Linked DNA regions of Homo sapiens: regions 1, 2 and 3 are each reported to be linked to region 4. Evidence: microRNA targets listed by miRTarBase, many of them from high-throughput screens and not tested one by one. Region 4 holds a microRNA gene; each other region holds the end of a gene's coding sequence.
What was found. Region 4 holds the annotated microRNA hsa-miR-6853-3p (UGUUCAUUGGAACCCUGCGCAG, at 2,143-2,164, shown strand). A microRNA usually pairs through its seed, bases 2 to 8, with sites in the 3' UTR of a target mRNA and lowers its output. Matches are read on the target gene's strand: a 7mer-m8 pairs with bases 2 to 8, a 7mer-A1 pairs with bases 2 to 7 and ends in A, and an 8mer does both.

Region 1: miRTarBase lists RAB11FIP4 as a target of hsa-miR-6853-3p. Seed matches in the 3' UTR shown: 7mer-m8 at 3,956-3,962 and 7mer-A1 at 4,198-4,204.
Region 2: miRTarBase lists SAMD14 as a target of hsa-miR-6853-3p. Seed matches in the 3' UTR shown: 7mer-A1 at 850-856.
Region 3: miRTarBase lists CCDC71L as a target of hsa-miR-6853-3p. Seed matches in the 3' UTR shown: 8mer at 1,053-1,060.

Annotation. Positions count from the first base shown.
Region 1 is chr17:31,530,934-31,535,347 of GRCh38, forward strand. It overlaps RAB11FIP4 (RAB11 family interacting protein 4), which reads left to right. Exons shown (of 15, transcript NM_032932.6): 15 at 683-4,414. The coding sequence ends at 799. MIR4724 (microRNA 4724) reads left to right here and starts at 3,950; the gene lies at 3,950-4,038.
Region 2 is chr17:50,109,100-50,113,099 of GRCh38, reverse strand. It overlaps SAMD14 (sterile alpha motif domain containing 14), which reads left to right. Exons shown (of 10, transcript NM_001257359.2): 10 at 52-3,060. The coding sequence ends at 207. It overlaps PDK2 (pyruvate dehydrogenase kinase 2), which reads right to left. Exons shown (of 11, transcript NM_002611.5): 10 at 3,700-3,813; 11 at 948-3,143. The coding sequence ends at 3,003. Among named protein-coding and RNA genes, the nearest start is that of PDK2-AS1, 8.7 kb to the right of the region's middle. RefSeq lists enhancers at 1-617, 618-1,303.
Region 3 is chr7:106,656,765-106,661,178 of GRCh38, reverse strand. It overlaps CCDC71L (coiled-coil domain containing 71 like), which reads left to right and starts at 21. Exons shown (of 1, transcript NM_175884.6): 1 at 21-4,414. The coding sequence starts at 283. The coding sequence ends at 990. RefSeq lists a silencer at 578-847 and an enhancer at 1,198-1,247.
Region 4 is chr9:35,730,832-35,735,245 of GRCh38, forward strand. MIR6853 (microRNA 6853) reads left to right here and starts at 2,091; the gene lies at 2,091-2,164. TLN1 (talin 1) reads right to left here and starts at 1,364. Exons shown (of 57, transcript NM_006289.4): 1 at 1,244-1,364. CREB3 (cAMP responsive element binding protein 3) reads left to right here and starts at 1,835. Exons shown (of 9, transcript NM_006368.5): 1 at 1,835-2,070; 2 at 2,165-2,312; 3 at 2,384-2,451; 4 at 2,565-2,654; 5 at 4,278-4,384. The coding sequence starts at 1,942. RefSeq lists enhancers at 921-970, 1,771-1,820, 1,871-1,960 and silencers at 1,151-1,440, 1,481-1,640.

The sequences.
Region 1 (4,414 bases), not on the chromosome of region 4:
AGCTAGGGAGGGAGAGGGACCCAGCTCTCTCCAAAGCCAAAGCCTACCCTTCCTGCCACACCAGAGTATGCTTATGAAAGATCAGGCCTCCAAAATGCCCCGGCTGCATTGTAACATGAATTACAAGACACTCTGTCACTGAGCCTCACCCTCTGCCTGGGACACGGGGTGAAGAGCTGACCTCTGTCCTCAAGGAGCTCCCAGGTGAGCTGGGCCCCAACCCCTGGGCAGAGGCAGCATGTCAGCAATGTCCGAAAGAACACTGCCCTGGAGAAGAGCAGTGTGGGGCTGGGGGTGGGGAGAGGTGTTCCAGGCAGGAGACAGCTCCCCTTTGGAGTCTTAGCGGCCCTGGGACTTTGTCAGTCTTGATTTTAAATGACTTTGGCTAGTGTTTTCTACTTTTGCAAAAAATTACCCACACCTGGGCCCCCTCTACAAACTGATCACATTGGAATCTCTGGGGGTGGGGCCTGGGCACCTGCATAGGTAATACTAGGGGCTGAGCCACTTCGACTCTGGTCCTGGCATCCAAATGCTGAGGCTGTCCTGGGGCCCACCTTGCCCAGGATCTCCTGATGCCCTCTATTGTCAGGCACTGGCCTGCGACAAGCCTGGGAGTCTGGACTCTGCCTGCACCCTATCCCAGGCCCAGCCACTGACCCGTCTTTCCCATTTCCTTCAGCTAATGGAAGCCCTGAAGGAGCAGGAGGAGATCAACTTCCGGCTGAGGCAGTACATGGACAAGATTATCCTCGCCATCCTGGACCACAATCCCTCCATCCTCGAGATCAAACACTAAGGCACGGGGCTGGCTGCAGAGCAGCCTTAGGACCCTGGGACCAAGGGCAGACCCTGCCCAAGGATGCAGGCCTAAGCCGGGCCTCACACTCACACTGTAAATGTCTCTCTGGCCACCATGCGTTACGTGTACCCGTGTATATGTGGGGAGGCTGTGCACACGAGCGAGGGGTGAGTGGCCGTGGCTGTGGGCAGCATCCACACGGTTAGCCGTGCATGCACTTTGTGGCCCCTTTGCAAGGGGCAGAGGGTACTGGAAGTGGGAGGAGGCAAGGTCTGCTATCAGGAGTTACTGTAAAAACAAGAACTGGAAGCTCGTGTTTCCGGTACTGGGTAAAATGATTCTACCTCTGGGGATAAGGATTCACATTCGCTCTAGTACGATGGGCTCTTTCACCCCACTCCTAGTCCCCTTGGGAGTGGGAGCAAAATTGTGATCTTTCCTAGGAGTTTGAATGCCCCATATTTGTGTCCTCGCCAGCTCTTTGGCCACCTTTCAAGCCCCAGTGTTCAAGCTCAGAGAGGATGAAGGGGCATCTGGAGGGTCCATGAGATGGGGCCCTCACCAAATGCCTTGGCCACCGGCCAGCAGCCCTCTGTGATGTGTGTGCAGAGTGAACAGAGGACTCAGGTTTCATAGCAGCTAGTGCGGGGCATCCTCATCCTGTACCTATAGAGTTCGTGCACTCCCCCATCCATGCTACCTACCTCCCCGTTTCTGTTTCAGTTTTAAGACAATGAAGCAGCATTCACTGCGTCATTGTAACATGAAGGGATAAAAATGAAGGAGAAGGAGGGTTTGGGATGGGTGTCTAAGGCAGGAGTTGACATCGGGCAACCAAAGAAATGAGTTTTGGGGAGGAACACAACTCCCATCCCAGTCAGTTTCCTTCCCATGGCTGCATCTTAAGATGGATGCACGGAGAAACCGTCTGCCTGGCTCCCTGTCTTCATTCTCCACGCAGCCTGGTGATGGCAGGCCTGGGTTTGGATTTCAGAATCCTAGCTCCGGGCTCCACTCGTGTGGCAGCAAGACTGCTTCGTTCCAGCGTTTAGAAACACACCTGTATTTGATTCTCAGCCAGGGGAGCACTCGCTGCACTGGTGGGAGGCGGTTGGGAAAGTTGCAGGAAAACCTTAGTCTTCCATCCTTCTGACCCATGGTGGAAATTCACACCATGGATTTTTAATGGATCTTTGTTCTAGGCAGCTGGGAATAGACATGGTACTTACCTTAGAGTTTTCCAATTTATCTCAATTTTATATGGCTTGTGATTCATTTTCTTAATCCAAATATATATAAACGTGTGTGGTCTTATTCTTCCCCCTGCAGTTTCTTGCTTTCTTCAGCACATCTTATAGTATGAGAAGGAAGGTTTGGGCATGTTGGGAAGGGCGGTGGAGGGGGAGTTGCAGAAAGAGAGGGCAGTGAGGGTGAGGAGAGGGGATCTGGGGACTTGGGTGTGACACCTGCTTGACAGAGGCAGGGCTGTGGCCAGGACCAACCTTCAATTCCATTCCAATCAGCCTTTGCATTTGTTGGATCTCGTGGCTTCTTTTTAATCTTTTGTTGGGGATTAGTTTCATGCTGCACATAATGGGGTTGCACTGGTCTGACCCAGGACTTTGGAGCCACCCACACTGGGAAGACTAGGCTAGGCAGTCGGTCTTCTAGGAGTTTCTCAGCCCCTTAGGACGCGGGTCTCCTTGGGCTCCCCCAAGGGTTCTGCGAAGAGGCAGTGGAAGAAGGCATGAGGAGAGGGTCTCTTGAGAATTTGCCAATAGGAAGGAGTGGCCACGGCTGAAAGGAACAAGACAGATCCTGACATAGCTTTGGCCTGGGTGTTAGGTCAGAAGGAGTACTGGTGCGTGGGGGCCTTACCCCAGGGTTGAGTATTTTATCTGTAAAATGTTATCTGCCCTTTGGCTGCATTGGAATTTCAGAGAAGGCTGCAGAGGCCTGGGTTACACAGCCTGAGTCACAACGTGGGAAGGAATCTCTGCCACGGGAAAGGTGGGCGGAAGCAGCTGGCAGCCTGGGGCGTGCTTCAGGCTCCTCCCTCTAAGGGGCGCCATGGGAACAGGCTCCGGAGGGAGCCGGCGTCTGAAAGGCCCCCGGGACCTGCTGCAGTGCCAGAGGGGCCTCTGGAGCAGGCCTGGCTTTTAAATGGGGGGCTGAATTCCAGCTCACACACACCTCAAGTCCAACCTTACTTTCTTCAGCCAGAATACATTTCTTGTAAAACCTGGCTTGTTGCTTGGCTTTTAAAGATGGTGTATGTTTGTAAAAATATTCTTCTGGGCTCAAAAGCTAGCTTGAGGGGGCAGATGCCCCAGGTGTCCCAGCTCCACAGCCCCTGGCAGATCCCAGACCCCTTGGTGGCAGGTCCCAGAGCCTAGGTGGTAGGAGCTTGATCTTTGTTTCTGCCCTTACCCCTCAGTAGTGGGGCTGCGAGGTAGTAGACAGGATGCCCAGTTAAGTTTGAATTTCAGATAGAAAATAATTTTAGAATAAATATGTTCTATCTAATACATGGGACAGATGTTATTTTTAGAGATAGGATCTTGCTCTGTTGCCCAGGCTGGAGTGTAGTGGTATGATCATAGCTCACCACAACCTTGAACTCCCAGGCTCAAGCGATCCTCCCGCCTTAACTGCCTGAGTAGCTGGGACTACAGGCATGCACCACCACGCCCAGCTAATTTTTCTTATTTTTTGTAGAGACAGGGTCTCACTGTGTTGCCTCACTCGAGCTGCTGACCTCAAGTGATCCTCCCACCTCAGCCTGCCAAAGCACTGGGATTACAGGCATGAGCCACCATGCCTGGCCAGGACATATTTGAAATGGGGAGATTTTAAAAATTCTGATGATTAGACTGAATCCTCAGACGTTCTGGTTTGATTGTTGTGGGTGTAGCCCAGGCATGGGATTTTTTAAAGAGCTGCTCAGGTAATTCCAATTTAATTGCGTGTCCTACTTGGGTTTTTTGTTTGTTTTTATTGTTTTTGCTAAACCTGGCAACCCTACCGAGTAGGGATTAGCAGTAACTTATCTGAAATTTAGAGGTGTTTTGGGGGTGGGGCGAGGGTTTCTGTAGTAGACTCAGATTTTACATGGCCCTGAGCTGCCCTTGCGTTCAGTTGGAAGCCACGCAAAATGAACTGAACCAGGAGTGAGCTTCGTGTACATTATCTATTAGAAAATGAAGTACCTTCTGGTTCAGCTAGTCCCTGTGCGTTGAGAGGCTTTAAGAAACTTCTAGTAAAAATGTTTTTTTCTTTTAGCTTTGAATTGGCCAGAGTTTATCCTAGATTATTTTATTTTAAATTGGTAGAATTCTTTGCGAACTGTCACAGAGAAATTCCTTTTCATGACTTTATTTCTGACCTATTAAAACATGAACAGGCCAGGCATGGTGGCTCACGCCTGTAATCCTAGCACTTGGGAGGCAGTGGCAGGCGGATCACTTGAGCTCAGGAGTCCTAAACCAGCCTGGGCAACATAGTGATACCTTGTCTCTACCAAAAGTTAAAAAAAAAAAAAAAAAAGCTCAAGAACCTGCACGAGGGCCTAAAACAGTGGGCTCAGCTTTGGCTGTGCATTGGAATCACCTG
Region 2 (4,000 bases), not on the chromosome of region 4:
AGGACTGGGAAGGTTCTGGGACTCTCTCCCTCACCCCGGACTCCTCCCCAGAGCCTGGGGCTCAGCAACTCTCATGACCGGGCACTGGTGAAGCGCAAGTTGAAGGAGATGGCAGCAGCTGCCGAGAAGGAGCGCAAGGCCCAGGAGAAGGCTGCGCGGCAGCGGGAGAAGCTCCGGCGCCGAGAGCAGGAGGCCAAGAAGAGCTAGGGGAGGGTGCACAGGCGCTGGCACCCGGCAGGGGCAGCCACTGGCTCCGCGGGCACAGGCCTCACCAGGGAGGCTGGACCTGGGCGCTGCACTTGGGCTAGCCTGGTCCCACGCTCTCAGGGGGGACATGCTCTCTCTTACCCTGTCACTTGGTCTAGACCCAGAGACCCCAGAAAGGGAGACCCCAGGGAGAGGGCCTAGTAATAAATCCTATTTTGAGGACTTGTTTGGCACAGAGTTCCTGGGGGAGGAGCAGATGAAGGGGAGAGGGCAGAGAGGCCAGGGCTGAGGCAAGTCTGGGAGGCTGGGTCAGGCTGTCCCATTGCCCTCAGGCCATCGTGGGGCTGGGGTGGAGGGGAGCTAGGAGGCCTGCCTGCCTGCTTGCCTGCCAGAGGCCCTGAGGCCGGGCCCCAGGGCTCAGAGCTGGGCTGGGCATTTCAGCAGGAGCCCATGTGGGAGCGGCTCCTCTCCACTCTTCCAGGGGGCTGTGTGGTGGGAGAGCTCTGTCCTGCTCCCCCAAGAGGCCAGTGGGCGCTGCAGCAAGTCGCACTCAGGGTAGACTCCCAGCCAAACTCCTCAACAGGAGCGCAGAGAAAGCAGCCTGGGGCGAGTGCAGTCTTTGCCAGGACTCAAGAGGGGAGGATGAACATCCCCTTCTCCCTCTCCCCTCCTCTGTCCTGTGGGTCCCAGGGGGCGAGATGACACCACACAGGTCTGCCTCTCAGGGCCCATTCAAGACCTGGTCTTTGACCCATTCTCCAAGCCAGGACTCCCTTCACTTCCTGCTGCTTCCTCAGAGGGCACCTAAGTCCTCTTTGGGAGCTGAGCAAACAGGAACTGATAGGGACAGAGGACACCACTTCCACCAGCCAAGGCCTAGGAGCTGCTGACCTGGTCAGCCCTCACCCCAGCCAGGCAGAGAGGCAAAACCTGGGGGTCCCCGGCAGCTACGAGATTGGAAAGGTTCATCAGCCCTCCCCCATCTGCCCCAGGCATTGTCAGGGAATCAGTGGGCTCAGAACTGGCAGGCGGTGCAAGCTCTGCTTCCCTGGGCCACACTGAGGGCTGGGGCCAGCTCCCTGGATGGGGGTGGAGTTTACCAGCAGCCTGGGGACAGCATGTGTCCTTTTTAGGAAATGTCCTTGGAGGAAGTGTTCATGTGTGGCGCTGGTCAGCAGCTAGTCCCGCTTCCAGGACACTGGTCAGAGTTACCGATGAGGCCTGGGGGCTCCCGCTTGGAAACCCCTCCAGCTCCTCCCATCTGCCCAGACAGAGCGGCAGATGGCACCAATGCATGCTGGCTCCCTCATTCCTGCCCAGGGGCTGTGGCTTACGGCCAGCACCCTGTACCTGGGACTCAGCCCTTATCCCCCCTCTGCTATCTGTGCTGGGAGAGGGGCTTCGGAGGGAAACAGATATGAGGACACTGGCACCATCTGGGCCTGGTGGCAGGGCCATGGGAGGTTGGAAGGCACCCACATCCTTAAAGCCATCAGTAGCTATAGTGGGTGCCCACCTGCATGTGAAGGGGAGGCAGTTCTCAATTTATTTCAATAAATCCTTATGATGTGCCAGTGACCAGAATTTCTGTCTGCTCCAGTTGTTGGGTTGGCCGGACTCTGCTGGGCCCTGAGTATGGTGGGACAACAGGTCTGTCACCAGGTGCTGGGCCATCCGGCGTTCTGAACAGATGGCTTTGCCCAGTGTTTTACTCACAGTCCTGAGCTGGGCCGGACGTCCCCGGTGCGTCATGTGGTGGTCACAGGGCACCGCAGTGTGCGTGTGTACGTGCGCACGTGTGGGTCCCCTCCCCCAGGGATGCAGCCAGGCCAGTCTCATTCAGTCTCCTCTTTACTGTGGGTGTGGGTGTCACTGTCACTGCCACAGCCACTGGGAGGGACACACAGCTTTAACCCCTGTGTGCTTAGGGGAAGGGTGGGGGCATTCAGGGTTATAAAACTAACTATATACACAGAAGGTCCTAGGGAGAAAGCCACCCTGAGCACACATGTCTGGGCACAGTGGGGGCTGGGGGCTGGAGCTCAGGCAGGATGGACTAGGCTTGTGGAGGAGCGGGTGGGCATGAGCATGTGAGGACATGCTGGGAGGGCTCAGGAGGTGGCACAGACATTGCCAAGGCCACTGCAGGGCCTCGAGCAGCTTGGCTGGATGGCAAGCTCTCGGTCTAACAAGGTTCTTCCACTTTAGAGTTGGGCCCTGTGAGAGCCACCCCCTCCGCCACCGACCTTCAAGCCCTGAGCGGAGGGAGAGGCTGCAGGACCAGCCTCATTCCCCACTCACGGGTGTAACTCCTTTCCCCACTCAGTCCCCAGGTCTGGAGGGCACCCACCCTCTTCCTAACACTTCAGCAGGCCAAGGCCAGGGTGCCTTTGTGGGCTGGGGGAATAAGGCAACGGGACATCCACTTGGAAGGCCTGTGCTGTGGAGGGTGCTGAGGGGGACCCAGTACCCCTGGCAGAAAAGTGACAGCCCTGGTCTCAGAGAGGAGGACTGCCATGGGAAAATGTCTCTGGGACACCCCATCAGGGTGGAGACATCCCTAACCCTCAGGCATCGCCCACAGAGATAGGGAGGCCACCGAGGGGTCTCCACAGAGATGGACTGGCACTTAGGGACCATCACAGACCTATCACCGCAGTGACTTCCATAGAGACAGAACCTGGTCATCAGGGAGAACCCACCCCCTGCTCCCCCAGGAGGATGGTGAGGGGCACCACGGTGGGGGGACCCAGAGGCGGCAGTCCGTCCTCTCAGGTGCAGATGCACGGCGGCCCTTAGCTGACGCGGTACGTGGACGTGTTCTTGGGCTCCGTGCTGGGCACACACCAGTCGCCGGCCTCCTGGATGGTCTGGTAGTGGCGCCAGGCTGACTTGTTGTAGACAGGCAGGCGCTCCACCGAGTCCGTGGACAGGGCCTGGGGAGTGTCAGGGTCAGCCCCTCCCACCTCCCTGTGCCTTGTCCACTCCTCAGCAGACCACCCCACCCCAGCTCAGCGGCAGCCCAGCTGCCAGACACGGGGGCCTGGAAAGACCACAAAAGGGTGGTCCCTCCTGTGTCCCGCTCCTGCCCATTCAAGCAAGCAGCTCCCTCTAAGGGAGGGAGAGGGAGGGGGAGGAGGCTGGGCTGTGTGACCCTGAGCAAGTCACGGACTCCGGGCCTCAGTCTTCTCCTCTGAACTGAATGGCAAGACCTAGGGTGTCCCCTTCCTTCTGGGTCTAACAAGTCAAGGGTTCCCAGCACAGGGGTCTTAATCATAGACCACAGACTCCCCTAAATTCCCTGACAAGCAGTGCGTGTCTGGGGGTTGAGGGTTCTTCAGGTTGAGGAACTGTAGCTTTGCTTGGATTCTCAGAGTCTGGGGCCAGGGAAGGACTGGGGGGATGGAAAGGAAAGCTCGCAGCTGGCCAAGGCTGCCCAGGTCCTATCAGCAAAGCTCTTCTCCAGCTGGGCTCTGCGGGAAGGGCCCTCACCTTGAGATAGATGACAGCATCGGTCCCAAAGCCTTCCATGGAGAAGAGCTGCAGGTCTCCCTGGAAGTACTTGGCGTAGAGGCGGGAAATGGGGAGCCCATAACCAAAGCCAGCCTGCAGCGGGGCAGGAAGGCAGTGAGGATGAGGAGGCTGGCAGGGGCCTCCTGGAGCTGCAGGGACTGATGCAGGGAGGGAAGGGTGTGGAGCTGGGGTCACATGGCAGGGGTCCCAGAGCTGGGAGGGGACATGTGGGAGGGGACACTGAGGTAAGAAGTGTGTGTGGGGTGAATGGGGCAATCAT
Region 3 (4,414 bases), not on the chromosome of region 4:
GGCAGCCGGCGAAAAGAGGCAAGAGAGGAGAAGAAAGAGAAACCAGGGGGGCGAGGCGCCGTCCAATGACAAAGCCCAGGGGTGGGCGCCGGCCGCCATCTTGTACCGGGCAGCAGGATATTCGCCCGCGTCCTCCGCCCTCGGAGGGGGAGGGGCGGCGGCGGAGGCGAGAAAAGTAGCGAGAGACGCCAGCAGCAGCCGCCGCCGCGGAGCCAACGCGGACTGGGACGGCGGCGGCAGTAGTGGGACCCGGCGAGCGTGAGTGGCCCGGAGCGGCCTTCGATGCGGCGCAGTATGAAGAGGCGGCGGCGCCGGCGCCCGGTCGCCCCGGCCACGGCCGCCCGGGGCGGCGACTTTAGGGCAGAAGACGGGGCTGGGTTGGAGGCGCGGGAGGAGAAGGTGGTGTACTCGCGGTCGCAACTGTCGCTGGCTGACAGCACCAAGGCGCTGGGCGACGCCTTCAAGCTCTTCATGCCCCGCAGCACGGAGTTCATGAGCTCGGACGCGGAGCTCTGGAGCTTCCTCTGCAGCCTCAAGCACCAGTTCTCCCCGCACATCCTGCGCAGCAAGGACGTCTACGGCTACTCCTCCTGCCGGGCCCTGGTACCCGACCCCCCGGGGCCCCCTACAGCCCGCGGCCAGGCGCGCCGGCCGGTTCCGCGCGCAGCGGCCAGGAGGAGGCGCCGCGGAGCCCGGGCGGCCGCTGCCCGCAGGAGGAAGCCCCGGCCGCCACCCCCACCGCCGCCGCCCCCCGAGGAGAGCTGCCCGGCCAAGCCCGTGGCCCCCGGGCCCTGCTTCGGGGGCCGCACCTTGGAGGAGATCTGGAGGGCGGCCACCCCGACGCTGACCACCTTCCCCACCATCCGCGTCGGCAGCGACGTGTGGGGCGAGCGCAGCCTGGCGGCAGCGCGGCGCAGGGCGCGCCAGGTCCTGCGAGTGAACCTGGAACCCATGGTGAGGCTCCGCCGCTTCCCGGTGCCCCGGGCATGAGGTGCGGCCTCCAGGGCGCCTCCTGCCGGCCCCGACCTTGGGACAGGCCTTCCGCCCGGAGGAATGAACAAGTGTCAGTCGAGTGTTTACAGATCCGGCCAGGACCCCGGCCCCCAATGCACTTTACGCGCGAAGAAGTTGCCGGATGGTTGTCCCTGTCCCGGGCCGCGGCGCGGTCGTCTTGGACGCTGGGGCAGGTGTGCCCTCTGCTGCCTCCCGTACCCGGCCTGCGGAGGGAGGGGACAGCTGGACCCGCAGGGGAGGTCCCTTTCTTCCTGACCACCGATTGAGACGTCTCCAGGACCTTAGGGGCAGATCCGTTTTCTCACTGTTGGACTCTACCTCACTGGTCTGGAAGTCCTCCGAAGACATTATTTTTCCAAAGGAATTTGGTTTCGTGCTTGTGTAATAAAGCCAGAATTTACTTGTTCTTTATCTCCCCCTTTTTCTATTTCACTGTCACCCCTCTTTGTGGACAGAAGTTCGAACATGTGGTGTTGCACTAGTTTGTGCTCAGGGTATTCTGAAGCCCACTCGTTTCCTAATTTTTACTGGATTCCAAAGCTTTGATCGAGGATATTTTTTAAGAGGTTCAAGCTTGTGACTGTTAGTAGTGCAAGGATTTGTATGGGCTCAGTGATTACAAACAAAGACATGCAAAATACAACTGTTTAAACATTTTCAAGGTATTTTTAAAGGTTTTGTATTGAAACAATGTTTATATTTACTGAGCTCCTAAAAATGGTAGAATACACATGAAAACTTTTGTTTAGGAAAAGTTAACTTGTTAAATTCTTTTGAATTGAATAAAAAAATGCATTGAAACCATATGGTGTGTGATTAAAAAAAATGAATAAATTGTGAAGAACTGGTTTTGGTTACAGGAGTCACTGGAATCCGACTGGAGATGATTTGGCCCCCTGTCCTGGTCTAACATACAAATCTAGGAATATTATGCGTTAAAGTATTTTAAAATACATTATCCTTGTAATGTATTTTACAAGGATAATGTATTTTAAAATGGGAGTTGCATAGGAGAGATGGATGTGTGTAAACATTATCACTAAAATGATAAACAGAATACCCATTAGAATTCTTAGAACTATTAATGATCAAGAGGGGTGGAGGCATTTCTTGGTATCAAATAACTGGTTAAGGTTACTTTGGGCGAAATCTATTTCCTTTTTGTTTTTGTTGTTGGATAACAAGAAATGTCTAGACTAATATTCATCAGTTTTACAAACATAATGAAAATTAGTTGATTTTTAGTTGATTTTTTTGTCCCAACATTTTTTTTAACCTTTTTGCCACTCATTATATGTTTGCAGTTCTAGGTCTTTGACAGCTGAAGACCACAGGAATCAAACAGGCGAGACACACAGAATACTGACCCTTCTTTACGCTTTTATAGTGTTTATACCATATGGCCCAGTGTGGAATTCTTGATTATCCAAGTGCCTTTGGTCATTTGTGGCAGGAAAACTTAATAGTTTTTAGCCAGCAGTGCCACAGCCAGCTTTTACTGCAATACCTAAAGGGTCAAGTAGTGTTTTTGTACCACTATTATTTCAAATTTAAGTATTCTGCCATGAAACGATCCATACTGGGCTGGAACTTGACATGTGAAATCTTTAATACTAAAGCTTATCTCTGCTTGGCAGCTTTTTAGGAGAATAATGAGAGTTACAATTTTGACTCTTGCGTTCCTAGAATTCAAATGGCATAGCTTTCTGAAATGAGTATTTCAAGTTTAGTAGTCCGTATAGGAGTGTTGTGACTTCAATTTCAGTGTTCTTGTTAAAAGAAATAATATGATATATATATACACACATATATATAACTTGATGCCAGTTTTCTAGTAAGCCTCAGTCTTTTATTCACTACTCAATGATAATGCATTGTACAAACACTGTCACATGAGTAAATAAAAATGAATAATTCCTTAGAAGATGGAGAGTGTTAAATTATATTTGTGATAGGAAGCTTAGACATATCTTTTGGTTATTAGCTTCCATTGCCAATTGTATTTCAGATGCATAGGGTTTTCTTCCCAAAAATATATTGTTAACTTTTATAGCTAACTAGCACCTGGAAAAAATGTATTTGTACAACTTTACTATTGTATATAGTTTTATAATAATGAAAAATAAACCCAATGGCCATATTAGAATGCAATTTCGACATACAGCTTATCTAGATAGTTTTCCAGAGGATTTTGAAATTTGGCTTAACTGGGAGGATAACTGCTCAGCACACCACTGAAACATAACCACTGACACCATTCATTTATTTTAACTGAGATTCTTGACATTTTTCTCTCCTATGCCTTGTTACTTTAGCATACTTGAACTCACATAAATGCTTCTTTGGATTACATGGGCTATCTGATTCCATTTTGGATCTGATTGTCCATCTTGAATTCAATATGGTATTCATCTGGACTATTCAAAAATTATGCCATTTCTAGTCTGTGAAATAAGATGTAAAAAATCTTTATTTTTGCCCTTTGGTAAAAACCTATGTGACAACTTTTAAAATGTGAAGCAACATCTAATATAGTTGACTGGTATACTAATAGGAAAGTGAAAGTATTTCATGGGTACTTTGTCACAGAATGTGAAAAGAAACTTGGCATAGTGGCCTTTATAATGAGGCATCCACTTACTCCTCTGAAGTGAAGTCTGTAGCTTAGCTTGTGTATAGTTTTTGAAAGAAATCTCATGATCTTCGTTCATTCTCTTGCCTTCTCTTTTATCTCATATGGCACAAGTAGAGGGGGAAGCCAGGAGGAAATTCATCACCTCGCTATGCTTTTATTTGATTTTTAATTCCTGAGTGCCTAAATGTGGTGACCGGCACCTCACATAACTTTTTGAGATTCTTGATGTCATTTTTATCCTTCCTGTCAACCAGCAATGTATTTTTATGTTACTAAAACCAGTAACGTCATAATTGTTGAGGGCAAGCTTCATTGTTGATAGTGCAAAGTGTCGCTGTTGTGATGTGTGTTTATTTTATTCAAGTTTGAATATTGACAAGTGTAACTTAAGCTGGTGACTGACACCTATTGATCTGCTGTGTGCAAATGATAGTACTATTTTTTAGAAAACTCTTAAGTAAATTTTAAAAATATTTGAATACAAAATATCTGAGCAATTTTGAACTCAAAAGTTTTTCATTGTTTTAAGGATTGCCACAGGACTCTTTAATGGTTTTTAATGGACATACATGCCTAATATTTATTGGTGTGTTTAAAATATTTTTTGATAGAGTGTTATGTCTTAAGCGCATTAGAAAACAATTGTTTGTAATGGAATCAAAGTGTTTCCCTGGACAGTTTGATGTGCTTATGGTTGAGATTTATAATCTGCTTGTACTTTGCTTTTTAACTTATTAACTGTAAATAAATTTTAGAGAATACATA
Region 4 (4,414 bases):
TTCAGGGGATTCAGTTATTCCCTTCTCCCATGGCAACAGTGATTCCTTGGTTAGCTTCCCCCATAGTCATCAGCTCCTTCTTCCCTAGGCAGTCCCCAACTTGTGACTAGGCCTTGTACATCCTGGGTCCCTATTTCCCACCTATGTTGTCTGTAAACAACACAGTCCAGAATCTCTGTCCCCTAACTGTGGTGGCCACAGCAAGGGCCTTGGGCTTAGAGAATGGAATAAAGAAGCTGGAATCCCAGATGCCTGCAATTCTAGCTAAAGCCAGAACGCTAGCCTGAAATTAGTTTATCTCTCTGGGTAAAAAGAAGCCCCTGTAACTACATAGGAATAAAGGATTTCCCTACAAAAGAAGGGCATTTACCTACTGCCAACCTCTTAAATTTTATCTGCTCAAGGTCAACTATGCTAGCCTCAAACCACAACCCCTAAAGCTGCCCCAAATTCCTAACATTAACCCCACCTCTAATTTGTTTCCTGATTCCCAGTACCGGCTTGGACATTCATCCCTTTCCTAGCACAGACTCATATCCAATCCCTGATCCCTGAAACTGATCTAAGTTTTGCCTTTAGCACCAAATCCCCTGATGTTAACCCTAAATGTTGACCCCTAAGCCTAAAGTTCATTTATAATTTGATTCCTAACTCACGCTTTCACTGTTTATCCTTAACACCGACCATGCCAACATTCTTTAATCCCTCAAACAAGCTCTAACCTGATTCCTGTTGTTTGTTGACCCTTAACCTGACCCTGAACTCAAATTATGACGTATGATGGCCATCCCAGCAAACAAGATAATGACCGTAATCTAAACCTTACCTATCTAAAACGGACCTGACTCACACTAACTCTTAAGTTTTAACCCCAGCTTTTAACTCCTATAGCGACCCTTGATTCCTAAACGGACCCCACCTAATCCCCAACTCACCCAAAGCTTTCCTACCCACATGCCCGCTATCAGCTAACACCAAAGCCCGTCCCCGCCCTGCGCCCCGCTGCCACCCGACTCCTCACGCTCCCCAAAGCCTATCCCAGACATAGGACTGCTCCCAGGAAAGGCCTGTCTTCCCCAAGACGGCCTACTTCACGCCGAGCTCAAGCCGAGATGCGCTGGACGCTGACCTCTCCAACTAATAGGACCCGAACCGGACACGCAAGAGAGGCAGGGCCCGCCCGCCCCGGGGCCAGGCCCCGCGGCCCCACCCTAAGGCCCCCGCCCGGCCCGGTCTGGCCTACCTGCGCTGCCTGGCTCTGCGCCCCGCCCGCCGGCCCGCCGCCCCGCCGCTTCTCGGGTCGCCCTCGGGCTCCGGCCTCGCCCTCCCTTCGACACTCTCTCGGCCACTTCCGTCCTGGGAACGTCCCCCACCCGCGGGCGGCGCCCTGGGCCCGCGCTCTATGGTCGCGGGGGGCAGGCAGGAAGCTGCTCTGGCCCCGTTCTCGATGCTCGGGAGCCGCCAAAGCCCGGCAGCCCCTCCCTGGCAGGAAGCGAGGGTGCGGCGCAATCCGGAGAGGACGCCAGGACGACGCCCGAGTTCCCTTTCAGGCTAGAACTCTTCCTTTTTCTAGCTTGGGGTAGAAGGCGGAGCCGGAGCCCCGGAACCCCCGCCCTCGGGGTGCGAGGCGGCAGCAGGGCCGTCCCCTACATTTGCATAGCCCCTGGGACGTGGCGCTGCACCCAAGCCTCTTCTCAGTTGGAGGGAACTCCAAGTCCCACAGTGCCACGGGGTGGGGTGCGTCACTTTCGCTGCGTTGGAGGCTGAGGAGAATTGAGCCTGGGAGGCGGGTCCGGAGAGGGCTATGGAAAGCCGCCGGCGGGGAATCCCGGCCGTAGAGGGACAGTGGATAGGTGCCCGAGGCCTACAGCTGGCCTGGGGCTCGTGTCTGGGCTTCGGACGTTGGGGCCCGGTGGCCCACCCTTTCCGTAGTTGTCCCAAATGGAGCTGGAATTGGATGCTGGTGACCAAGACCTGCTGGCCTTCCTGCTAGAGGAAAGTGGAGATTTGGGGACGGCACCCGATGAGGCCGTGAGGGCCCCACTGGACTGGGCGCTGCCGCTTTCTGAGGTAGGTTGGGGTTCTGACTGGGGAAAGCGTGGGATGTCCATGAAGTCAGGTGATGGTGATAAGGTCAAGGCCTGTTCATTGGAACCCTGCGCAGGTACCGAGCGACTGGGAAGTAGATGATTTGCTGTGCTCCCTGCTGAGTCCCCCAGCGTCGTTGAACATTCTCAGCTCCTCCAACCCCTGCCTTGTCCACCATGACCACACCTACTCCCTCCCACGGGAAACTGTCTCTATGGATCTAGGTGAGTCTGAAATAAGTTTGCGGGGAGGACAGGGTTCATGGGCCTGGCTATTCATACTTTCCCTTTTGCAGAGAGTGAGAGCTGTAGAAAAGAGGGGACCCAGATGACTCCACAGCATATGGAGGAGCTGGCAGAGCAGGTACTTGACTTGATTTTCAGGAGATTACTCTCACATTCCCCAGGTGGGGGCAGGATTCCCCATTCCTCTCTGACATCCCCATGCAACTGCCGTCCACTTTCTTGTTACCCTAGGAGATTGCTAGGCTAGTACTGACAGATGAGGAGAAGAGTCTATTGGAGAAGGAGGGGCTTATTCTGCCTGAGACACTTCCTCTCACTAAGGTAAGACTCTCATTGGTTGAACAAAGGCTGAAAAGGGATTAAAAGTCCCAAGTAGGCAAATTCTGTTAACTTTATATCAATAACTTTAAAAAAGGATTGAGGTGAGAAACTTAGTAGATTTATTGCTAATAGGAAGTTGAGGCAGGTACACAATATGCCAGATGCAAGGGCAGATCCTCGTTTTTGTTGGGCTTATACAAATTTTGGTGTTCTGTTAAAAAAATAACTCAAAATTATCAGTGCAACATTAGTATTGGGCCTTGGAAAGGACTGTGTAAGTGAAGGGCCTTGACACTTCGTTGGCTTCATAGTAATCCACCTCTTGCTGAATGGTAGAACTGTTTAGAGAGTTCAACAGGGTTGGACTAAGCAGTACATGAATAAATGTAAAATCCTTAGTTTTCAGTTTTAAGCAATGAGTGGCAACTTCACAAGCAGAGTACTGGGGTACTATGATGAAATCAGTGCTCATTAATAGAAAGGTTACAGGAATATATATATATTTTTTGACAAGGTCTTGCTCTGTTGCCCAGGCTGGAGTGCACTGATGTGATCATGGCTCACTGCAGCCTTGACTTTCTGGGCTTAGGTGATTCTCCCACCTCAGCCTCCCGAGTAGCTGAGACTACAGGTGCACACTACCCTGCCCGGCAATTTTTTTTTTGGTATTTTTAGTAGAAATGGGGTTTTGCCTTGTTGCCAGGCTGGTCTCGAACTCCTGGGCTCAAGTGATCTACCCACCTTGGCCTCCCAAAGTGAAGAATTTTAATTTCTTCAAAGTACAAGATGAGTCAGCAGTGTGATGTGGCTACTAAGAAAGTTCATGGGATTTGGAAACTGTAGCAATAGAGTTATTGTCTCTACAAGTCACTCTCTTGCTTTCCTTGATACTGGCTAGAGCACATCTTTGACAGATACTAAGAGGATGCAGTCTATCCTGAGAAGATGAGTTAAAAATTTTGTCTTTTTTTTTTTCTTTAAGCTCTGAGGAAATGTTAAGTGCCTTAAAATAGCTAAACAGGGTTTATTCTATTTGGCCCCAGAGATACTAGGTAAGTCCAACGGATAGAAATTATAAGGAGGCAGCTGTTGGTTCAGGATAAGGAAGTTTTTATTTGCTTGTTTGAAGACAGGTTCTTGCTTTATTGCCCAGGTTGGAGAATAGTGGCGAGATCATGGCTCACTACAGCTTCAACCTCTCAGGCTCAAGTGATCCTCCTTCCTCAGTCTCCTGAGTAGCAGGGACCACAGGCATGTGCCACCACACCCGGCTAATTTTTTATTTTTAGTAGAGACAAGGTCTCACTATGTTGCTCAGGCTGGTCTCAAACTCCTGGGCTCAACCGGTCCTCCTGTCTTAGCTCCCCAAAGTGTTGGGATTACAGGCATGAGCCACGTCGCCTGAATACTGCCCGACCAGTTTTTTTTTTAATAGTTTAAAATGGTCTGGCTTGTTAGGGTTAACACCTGGTCCGTGGAGGCATTCAGAAAGAATCTGAATGCCTGTTGGTCAGGGAAGCTGTAGAAGGGATTTCTGTATTGGAAAGAGATTGATCTCAGTTGCGTTTCAACTCCTTTTTCTAGAGTTCCTCTAATGATATCCCTTTCCCTGTTTCCTTTCAGACAGAGGAACAAATTCTGAAACGTGTGCGGAGGAAGATTCGAAATAAAAGATCTGCTCAAGAGAGCCGCAGGAAAAAGAAGGTGTATGTTGGGGGTTTAGAGAGCAGGTATGAAAGGGAGAGGGACTCTGTTGTAAG